2 linked regions of the Homo sapiens genome follow. The protein of the gene in region 1 purifies or fractionates together with the protein of each later gene. This does not show direct contact. Each region holds a gene or a part of one and is shown on either strand. Other genes may lie near its edges.

Region 1 (7,701 bases):
TCGGCCTCCCAAAGTGCTAGGATTACAGGCGTGAGACCACGCCTGGCCGATTCAGACTATTTTTTAAAGAAAGAACAGAACTGATGGAATAAGTGGGGTAAGAACAAAAAGAAATATCTAGAATGACTCCTAAGAATTTTAGTTTGAGCATAGCTTTGAGAAGGGGGTTTTAAAGGAGAAATCAAGGGAGATTTGGGGGGAAAAAAGAGCGATTTGGCCAATGTTAGATCTGGGATAACTATCAGACATCCAAGTGGATGTCAATTAGACAATTAGATAAACAAGTCTGCAGCTCAGAAAAACAGGTCAGATCTGAGCTCACCTAAAAAAGGGTACAGATGGAGAAATTAAGAAGGCCATGACTCAGCCCTGGAGATTTTGTCATCTCGAGGTCAGACAAGAGGAGAAGGATCTGGCAGAGGAGACTTCTATGCATCTGGAAAGCCAAAGAAAAGTGACTTATGGGGAGAATTGTTAATTGAGTTGAAGGCGGCTGAGACTTCAAGCAAGTGGAGGGCAGAAAATAGACAACCGGATTTGGAAAGATGAAGGCCTTCAGTGCCCTTGGTAAGAATAACCTAAGTTATATAGTTGGGATAAGACCCCAATTAATACAGGCTAAAAGAGACTCAGTGTTGAGGAAGTGGAGCACATTATAGACAGCTCCTTCAAGAGGGATGACATGTTAGAGAAATATTACTTACTGTACTTGTGATCTAATATTTCATATGCAACTGGAATCTTTTATTTGGAAAGGTCTGTGTGGTTAAAAAACAACATCAACAACAACAACTCATTCTCCTAACCAGTCCTACAAAACCAGATAATTAAAACCCCTTTAGGCTGGGCACGGTGGTTCACACCTATAATCCCAGCACTTTGGGAGGCCAAGGTGGGAGGATCACTTGAGGTCAGGAGTCCAAGACCAGCCTGGACAACATGGTGAAACCCCGTCTCGATTTAAAATACAAAACTGAGCCAGGTGTGCTGGCGCATGCCTGTAATCCCAGCTGCTTGGGAGGCTGAGGCATGAGAATTGCTTGAACCCAGGAGGCAGAGGTTGCAGTGAACCAAGATCACACCACTGCACTCCAGCCTGGGTGAGAGTGAGACTCCGTCCCAAAAAAAAAAGAAAAAAAAAATCTTTAACACTAGCTAGAAAATGATTCTGACAAGTCACTTAACCTCCCTGGGTCTTAGTTTCCAAATCTGTAAAATAAAAGAGTTGGTTAAGATACTCTCCAAAGTACTTCCAGTTTCAACAATCCGAAAGTGGCTCCCTACCCCCCACAATGACAACATATTGTCCCTTGCAAAACTTAAAAAGAACAACTCAAGGAACCCAACCTGTCATTTACCCTCATTTTAGAAGGTTCATTACGTAGAAAGTCATACAAACTATACCAGATAAAATAAACAAAAGCTGGGCCGGACATGGTGGCTCACGCCTGTAATCCCAGCACTTTAGGAGGCTGAAGCGGGCAGATCACCTGAGGTCAGGAGTTCCAGACCAGCCTGGCCAAAATGGCGAAACCCCGTCTCTACTAAAAATACAAAAAAATTAGCCGGATGTGGTGGTGCACGCCTGTAATCCCAGCTACTTGGGAGGCTGAGGCAGGGAGAATCGCTTGTACCTGGGAGGCGGAGGTTGTGGTGAGCTGAGATCACACCATTGCACTCCAGCCTGGGCAACAGAGCGAGACTCTGTCTCAAAAAATAAACAAACAAACAAACAAACAAACAGGCGCTGGATGCTCATTCATTCAGCAAGTATTTACTGAGTGCTATATGTCACGTACCAGAGAGTAGTTCTAGGCTCTAGAGGCACAACAGCAAACAAATACAGTAAAAATAACAAAATAATCCACCCACATACATCTCTTTTTTTTTTTTAAGAGGCAAGAATAAACTATACTATTTAGGGATATACATTTGGGTGATAAAATGCAAGGAAGCAATTACTATATAAAATAATGAACAGATGATGTAGTATATTAGAAGGCAGTAAGTACTATTGAGAAAAATAAAACAAGCAAGAGAGATAAGGAATGGCAGGACAGAAACTGCAATTTTGAATAAGTGGTTAGGGAAGGCTTTGTTGAGAGAATGGCATTCAAGACCTGAAGGAGATGAAGGAACAAGCCAAGTGTATAGCTAGAAAAAGAGTTTCAGGCAGAAGCAGTAAGAGAAGCCCTGAGACCTGGAATGTCCCTGGCATGTTCAAGGAATCTCAAGGAAGGCAGTGTGAATGAGAGAGAGAGCAGCTAAAAATGAGGGAAGAAACAGGGTGGTTCAATCATGTAGAGTCTACAGACAACCCTAAGAATTCTGACTTTGAGTAACATGAAGAGACAAAATAGGGTTTTGAGAAGGGGAATGTCTTATTCTAATTAACATTTTAACAGGATCACTGGGTATGCTGTGTTGGGAATGAACACAAATGGGAACCAGTTAGGAGACTACTACTAGAGTCAAGGATAATGACCAAGTTTGGAGCTTACCAGGTTTAGACTTGAACAAAGAGAAAACTGGAAATGCCATTAATTCAGATGGGGCAAGAGTGCAGGAGGAACAGATTAGGGGAGATCAGAAATTCAGTTTGACAGGCTACATTCAAAATGCTATTAGATACGGAAATCGAATTGAAAGACATTGAATAGGCAGGCAGATATATAAATCTAGGCATATACATATTTTATATATATTTTAAAGTTTTCAACAAATTTAGGGCATTTCAATCAACTTCTCCCTCATATATAATACATAAGACAAGCTCACAGCAAACAAACTGAGCAGACAACTATATTTGGAATTGCTATACTTGCCAGTGACCATGAAGAGTGAGGGCTGCAGCCAGGGAATAGTCCATCGCAGAGCAAGGATTCAAATAAGCAGCCGGAAGCAGACCCAGGAGCAAAACACTGACAACCCTCTCGCTAGTCCAGTGGAGAGATGCAGCCTTGGAGCCAGCTACAAAAAGGACCAGATTCATAAAAGTTGATGTGAGAAACACACATCTTTCATGTTCAACATATGCCACACAGTAACCCAAACTGACAGGCAGTGTACATATAGGATATAACTCTGAGTACAAAGGAAGTAAAATATCAAAATAGTAGTTGAGAGAAGCTATCTCTGTTTTTTGAAGGCTTTATCTCTGTTTTTTGAAGTCTTTTAGCACAAGGGTATCTCAATGCCTACATATTGATTAGAAGACAGATCCAAGAAGATGGATAAAAAACAGAATTGCTGTATTGCTACAGAATTAAGCCAGTCTTGGTTCAGTGAAGTGAACAGACACCTTATGAATGTAAGTTAGTGGTCCAGGCGTGGTGGCTCACGCCTGCAATCCCAGCACTTTGGGAGGCTGAGGTGGGCAGATCACCTGAGGTCAGGAGTTTGAGGAGGTCAGGAGTTTGAGACCAGCCCGGCCAACACGGTGAAACCCGTCTCTACTAAAAGTACAAAACTTAGCTGGGCATGGTGGTGGGCGCCTGTAATCCCAGCTAGTCGGGAGGCAGGGGCAGGAGAATTGCTTGAACTCAGAAGGTGGAGGTTGCAGTGAGCCGAGATCGCACCACTGCACTCCAGCCTGCATAACAGAGCGAGACTCTGTCTCAAAAAAAAAGAAAACAAAAGAAAAAAATTTGTAAAGACTTAGGCTAGAAGGTCTTCTATGATTATAAATGGCATCATTCAACCATAATGGCACTGTCTGCCCAAAGGTGTAAACTAGGTCTTCATTTGACAAAGTTGGACACAAGAGTCCCCCCTACAGGTAGGAAGTCCTGCTAAAGGCATGACCATTAGTGAAGGTAAAGATGGCTAGAGCCCAGAAAGCAGCAGCGATGGAGAGAACATACAATGGTGGCTCGGTGACAAGTGTATGTGCTGCACTCCACACCATTCTGGGATAGGTCGGTCCTGAAGAAATGCTGAGATATGAGCAGGTCTGACCACTGGAGTTCGAAGCAACAGAGCTGAGGAAAGAGTCATTAGGATGATCATAAGAACCTCTCCTTTAACAGGACTGACAAACTTTCTAAATGACCATAGGTAAGCTACTTAACAATAAATAGGGGATAACATCTTATTTGTAAAATGAAGATAGCATCTATTTCACTGGGGTTACTGTGAAGTTAAGACCAGGGAACATCTGCATGTTCCCTACTTTATTTAATGACACCTCAGGCATTCTTTAACCTAACTCAGTAATCTGGAAATCATGAGAGACTTTTCCCCTAAATTCAATCGCCAAATCCTATTGGCGTATCTCTTTAACAGTTCTTGAGACAATCTTCTTTTCTTTGTGCTACTTTCCTAGTTCAGGACCTCATCTTGCCCGGACTACTATGACAGTGTTTTCCTCATCAGAATGAAAGCTCGTTGAGGGCGGGAACTACGTTTTCTTCACATTTGTATCCTAGCATTACTACAGTACCTGAGGTAACACAAATGCCCAGGTTAAATGATTTTCGAACTGATCCCCCCTCCACTCCCACATCCAAACACACCAACTCCAGAAGAAATGGGCAAGCTCCTAACCCTCTTTCCCGACTCAGGGTGGGAGCGAGTGGGGAGCATTCTAGGGACAGTGAACGGGGAGAAAACAGAACTGCTATGTGGATTAGCCTCATCAGGACTGCGACTTCCAGAGGGAGCTCTCTTTCTGATTATTCCCTCAACTCGTCAGCTCACAGCAAGTGAAATATACCTTCGGGTAAACATCTGGACCCCTAGACTACAGTGGTCATTGCTGTGATTTCGGTATTTTCTTCTCCTCAAGAGATCTCCCACCCGGCAGATGAGTCCTCACTTCCATCCCCTTCCCTGGCTGGAGGCTACGCTAAGCACCTCAGGGTGGGAAGACCCCTCACCTCGGCCTCCTAGGGCACCGCAAACGGCACTCAGCCTCCAGAGAACCGCCATCTCGTTCCTGAGGGCTCAAGGTCATCCACCAACCCGGAACCACTTAGGCGACAATTCCCACCCACGACGACGAAAGAAAACAGGGAAGAGGAAATGCTGGGTGAACCGGAAGTCGAGAGGCGGTGCACACCCGTCGCGCATGCGCAAACACAGCTGTCGGAAGGTGGCGAGCCTGAGGCGAACAATGGCGGAGCTGGGCGAAGCCGATGAAGCGGAGTTGCAGCGCCTGGTGGCCGCCGAGCAGCAGAAGGCGCAGTTTACTGCACAGGTGCGGGGACGGGGAGGGTGAAGGGAAAGGAAGTTTCACCTTCCTTGGTGGTCCTGGGCACGCTCGGAGGTCTGTACACTGGCGGCTCACTGGTGCTCGATCCCGGCTGCATCCCATTCCCCTCACGAAAGACAAAGTTATGGCTCTCCTGTCCCTGGTGACCGGTAGTGCTCAGGTGCCAGGTATATAAGCGTAGCGTGGAGAAAAGAAAAGGTGTAAAACAGGGAAGATTTGGGCGACGCAAGGGTACGGGAGACTAGTTAGCCGGCGACATGACTGGGCTGGCATTCGAAAGATCTGGGTTCTCATCCTCCCTCTGCTCCTTGCAGGCCACGTGCCCGTAGAAAAGATACTCATCCACTGTGGGTTTTGGTGTCGCCGTCACCCCACTGCCTCACTGGATTGTGAGGATCATATGCGACAATGTATTTGAAAACGACTAGAACATTATCGGAGGAAGGTGGACTCTGAAGTAGTCGCTGTAGACTATGGATGTAGAACAAGGGTTTGGAGCCCTTCGGACATGGTTCTAACGCGGCCTGACTTCTTGCTGGCTACATGACCTTGGACTACATAATCACGCCTCTTAAATGGGAGGTGATGACAGCTATCCTTGAGGACCTTAGAGAGAACTGATTTCTTAGTACCCAGCCTCACAAATAGTAAGCTCTTGGTAAAATGGTTTTTTCCTTTTGGGTGGGAGGAAGAGGGTGCTCGGATGACCAGCAAGAACCCTGGCTAGAAATCTTTGGGCCCTGAACATTCTAATGACAGTGCACATAATTTCTGTGCCTGTATGTGCATTTTTCTGGGGAGTGGATCCATAACCCCCAAAAGGTTAATGGAAGAATTACCTTGTCTAGGGGATAGGTTTGGAATAAAATGAGTGCAATAGTTTGGGAAAATTAATTGGTTCCCTAGTTGGTTCACAATGGTGCTAGCTACTTTGGGGAATATAAAAGGTTATTAGTCCTACCTGAGAATGTACAATCTGTAGGGACGAGGATCTGGATCAATATTGGTGACTAATTAGGAAATGAAGAAAGAGAAGAGCCCAAAGTGACTCCGTGGTTGATTTAAAGAATGGTTTTGTCAGGTGTCAAAAAGTGAGAAGTTAATAAACAAGAGTTAGGCCTATCTGCAGACCCCAATGGTTACTATTTTTCTTTCCTTTTAGGTGCATCACTTCATGGAGTTATGTTGGGATAAATGTGTGGAGAAGCCAGGGAATCGCCTAGACTCTCGCACTGAAAATTGTCTCTCCAGCTGTGTAGACCGCTTCATTGACACCACTCTTGCCATCACCAGTCGGTTTGCCCAGATTGTACAGAAAGGAGGGCAGTAGGCCATCCCCCAGGAGAATGACAGAAGCAAAGGACTTGTTACTAAGCAGATTTAAGGGTCAGTGGGGGAAGGCTATCAACCCATTGTCAGATCAGCATCAGGCTGTTATCAAGTCTGTTGGTGCTAAAAAGTAAAAGATGAAATGTTCAAAGAGTGAAATTTATTTATTTGGAATTCAGAAATTCCAGGTTGTATGACATCAGTTACTCAATAAGTGTGAATTCTCCAACTCTTCTTTTAATCCCATTTTAGAATTTAATATAGAGATCTCTGATTGGCAGGAACACTAGAAATAAATGTTCCATGGCCAGTAGTGCAAATGGGGGATTGTAGGTTTTGAAAAACCACCCTAAGCCATATTAAGGGGGTTGGAAGAACCATCGAAGCCTAAGGCATAGAAGAAAATTTGGGGTTAAGAAAGATGAAGAACAAAAAACAGCTTTATTGCTTATACATGACCAAGAAAAGGAAAACATGGCAAAAAAAAAAAAAAAAAGGCAAGATGTGTATTCCTTGCGAAAGAACAAGCCTGCTAACTTGGGAGGAAGGGAAGGTCAGGACCCAAATAGAGCCAATTTCCTGGAGATGGCCTGTTCTACTGGCACATTTTCCTGAGTCTGTGCTTAAAACCTTTCAGGTACTTTCAGGGCACAGAAACAATGCATGCTAAAAAATATATGGCCAAAGCTCCTTCCAACAAAGATTTAACTTGCTCCAGGAACAAAATAATTGCTTTAGGTTAAGAGGTAGTAATTAGAGACTATTCTTCTCCCTTTAGACCCCCACTAATCCCAAAAATAAAAATACACACCATGGAACACTGACAATTGAGTACCAAAGTATTAAAATTTAAAATAAATATCCCAAAAGGTAGCACCTGCTCATAGTTAAGGGATAGGGCACCTCTGTCCAACCATGTATTTTAAGACCAAGCACTTTATTAGAAATCTGTCCCGTAAAGAGAACAAATTTAGCAGTTAGAACTAAAAATACCAACTCATGGAATGTCATCATAGTTGTATCTACTGCTGGTGTCTTATACTGTCATGCTACTGTGAAGTAATTCCGTATTACACATCAGGAAAGTAAGGCCAGGAAGGTGAACTTACCTGCTCTGGGCCTCCTCATAACCAATGAGTGGCAGAACCAAGACCGAAAGT
Region 2 (2,884 bases), on another chromosome or scaffold:
GCAAGAAATAAAGCGAAAGAAGTGGGCTAGGCGTGGTGGCTCGTGCCTGTGATCCCAGCATTTTGGGAGGCCAAGGCGAGAGGATTGCTTTAGCCCAGGAGTTTAAGATCAGCCTGGGTAATACAGTGAGACCCCATCTCTAGAAAAAATAAAAAATTAGTCAAATGTGGTGTTAGTCCCAGCTACGTGGGGGACTAGTAGTCCCAGCTACTTGGGAGGGGGAGATGGGAGGATTGCTTGAGCCTGGGAAGCGAAGGTTGCAGTAAGATGAGATCGTGCCGCTGCACTCCAGCCTGGGTGACAGAGTGAGACTCTGTCTCTTAGGAAAAAAAAAAAGCTGAAGGAGTAGACAATGGCCAGGACACACGGGTCCTTGTAAACCACTCTAAGATACCCTTTTTCGTAAACTTTTACTAAATATAACATTCAGAAAAATGCACGGATCATAAGGGTACAGTTCATTGAATTAAAGTGATCACATTTTTATAATCACTACTTATGTCAAGAAATAGAACATTATAAACACCCCAGAATCTTCCTTTGGGCCCTTTCCCAACCTCTGTCACCTACCTTCTTCCAAAAGAGAACTATTGGCTGGGCTTAGTGACTCATGCCTGTAATCCCAGCATTTTGTTGGGGCCAAGGCAGGAGGATCATCTGAGCCCAGGAGTTGAGACCAACCTGGGCAACATGGGGAGACCCTGTCTCTACAAAAACTTTTAAAAAATTGTCCCAGCTACTCAGGAGGCTGAGGTGGGAGGATCACTTGAGCCTGGAGGTCAAGGCTGTAGTGAGCCATGATTGTGTCACTGTACTTCTGCCTGGGTGACAGAGCAAGACTCTGTCCCCCCCCCCCAAAAAAAAAAAAAAAAACAAAAAACAAAACAAAAGGGAACCACTCTCCTGACTAACAACAGTGGGGATTAGTTTTGTCTGCTTTTGAACTTTATATGAATGGAAGCATGTGGCATATGTTATTTTCTGTCTGGTTCTTTAACCTAAAAAGAAATTTATCCATAGTTTTGTGTGTAGCATAGTTTATAATATTCTAGTATATGAATATTCTACATTTGTTTATCCATTCTTTTATTTTGGAATATCTGGGTTTCTACTTTTTTGCTATTATGAGTTATGCTGCTGTGAACAGCCTTGTACATGTCTCTTAGTTCCCGTGTCTATTTATGTCTATTTGTAAACATAGTTAGCTACAAGGAGAATTGCTGGGTCATAGGGTATGTGTTTGATCTATTCCTTTATAATCAGTGCTGGCTGAAGACTCTTCCCTACTTAACGATCAGGAAGATATTCTCTCATCTTTAAAAATACATATGGGTTCATAAAATACATATTAATCTGCAACTTGCCTTTTCTTTCTTCTCATTTAATGCTTTCTTTTTTCCCATTAATGTAAAGAGGTTATGGTCTGCAAAGTGGATTTCTAATCACCTTATTTAACTTTTTAGCATAATGTTTTTAGTGACATGAAAATTAGAATCCTATGAAGTGAGGCTGAGATTTTCCATTCAGAGTTTAAAGTATTACCATATATTGTTAAAAAAAAAAGAAAAGAAGCCAGGCGCTGTGGCTCACACCTGTAATCCCAGCACTTTGGGAGGCTGAAGCAGGTGGATCATGAGGTCAGGAGTTCAAGATGAGCCCGGCCAACATGGTGAAACCCTGTCTCTACTAAAAATACAAAAATTAGTTGGGCGTGGTGGCAGCCTTCTGTAATCCCAGCTACTTGGGAGGCTGAGGCAGGAGAATTGCTTGAAACCAGAAGACGGAGGTTGCAGTGAGTCCAGATCGTGCCACTGCACTCCAGCCTGGGCAATAAGAGCAAAACTCCATCTCAAAGAAAAAAAAGCAAAAGAAATTGTTTTCTATTGCTTGTCTCTTAATAGGCTGCTTTGCTGGCTCTGCAAGAAAATGGACTAGACGCAACTACAGTGAAACAAGAGCACTTTCTAAAATCACTTAAGACTGTAAAACCGTCGTTAAGTTGCAAGGACTTGGCTTTATATGAAAACTTATTTAAGAAAGAAGGATTTTCTAACGTGGAAGGTATTTAAAAATCACCTTAAACTCTTGTTCAGTTCACATTAATTGAAATGTGAACTTGCCTGTCGTTTGCAACTTCACACTTTTAGAATTTGTGTTTATATTTCCTGTAAGTGAATAAATAAAACAAAACAAAACAAAAAAAACTTGTGCCTGATAAGCTAAGGCTCATTTATTTTTAAAAGGCATATTAAATAAAATACTGTAATTTAGGAAGAAAGTGTGTGTGTGTTGATTTTGTTGTAAGGGGTGGTTGGTTTTGGGTGATTGCTTTTTTATTAAACCCTGAAATAATTTCATACTTACAGAAAAGTTGCAAAAATAGTACAAAGAATTTTTATGTGCTCAAACCCAGATTCACTAATCTTTAACATTTTGCCACATTTGCTTTCTCTGTCTTCCCCACCCCTTGTACATATACACATACACACATTTTTTTTTGAGTGGTTTGAGAATAGATTATATACATAATGTCCCTTTCCCCCCTTAATACTTGAGTGTGTATTTGTTACAAATAAGGTTATTATATGACCAAATTCAGCAAATTTAATACTGACACAGTATTTTAATCTATCATCCAGTGAATTTCATGTATGGTCACAATAACGTCCTATATGGTAATTTTCCCCATTACAGGATCCAGTCTAGGATCACACATTTCATTTAGTCACCATGTCTCTTTAGCCTCTTAACTTGAAACAGTGTCTCAATCTTTCTTGACCCTGACATTTTTGAAGAGTATAGACCAATTATTTTATTGAGCAGTTCATTCCTGGACTTGTAGTTGATGTTTTATCATGGTAGATTCAGGTTATGTATTACCAGT

The links.
Region 2: the proteins of TIMM8B (region 1) and AFG2B purify together in Homo sapiens (co-immunoprecipitation; 2 studies listed by IntAct, with this or other methods). This does not show direct contact.

Annotation. Positions count from the first base shown.
Region 1 is NC_000011.10:112,084,136-112,091,836, reverse strand, and holds TIMM8B (mitochondrial import inner membrane translocase subunit Tim8 B), read left to right. Parts: upstream 1-5,080; 5' UTR 5,081-5,113; coding exon 5,114-5,197; intron 5,198-5,526; exon of another isoform or gene 5,527-5,870; intron 5,871-6,374; coding exon 6,375-6,542; 3' UTR 6,543-7,037; downstream 7,038-7,701. Other genes in the region: SDHD (succinate dehydrogenase [ubiquinone] cytochrome b small subunit, mitochondrial isoform a precursor), read right to left, coding at 2,826-2,970, 3,864-3,980, 4,878-4,929. UniProt on the Homo sapiens protein: Probable mitochondrial intermembrane chaperone that participates in the import and insertion of some multi-pass transmembrane proteins into the mitochondrial inner membrane.
Region 2 is NC_000015.10:45,419,142-45,422,025, forward strand, and holds the end of AFG2B (ATPase family gene 2 protein homolog B), read left to right. Parts: intron 1-1,901; coding exon 1,902-2,069; 3' UTR 2,070-2,274; downstream 2,275-2,884. UniProt on the Homo sapiens protein: ATP-dependent chaperone part of the 55LCC heterohexameric ATPase complex which is chromatin-associated and promotes replisome proteostasis to maintain replication fork progression and genome stability.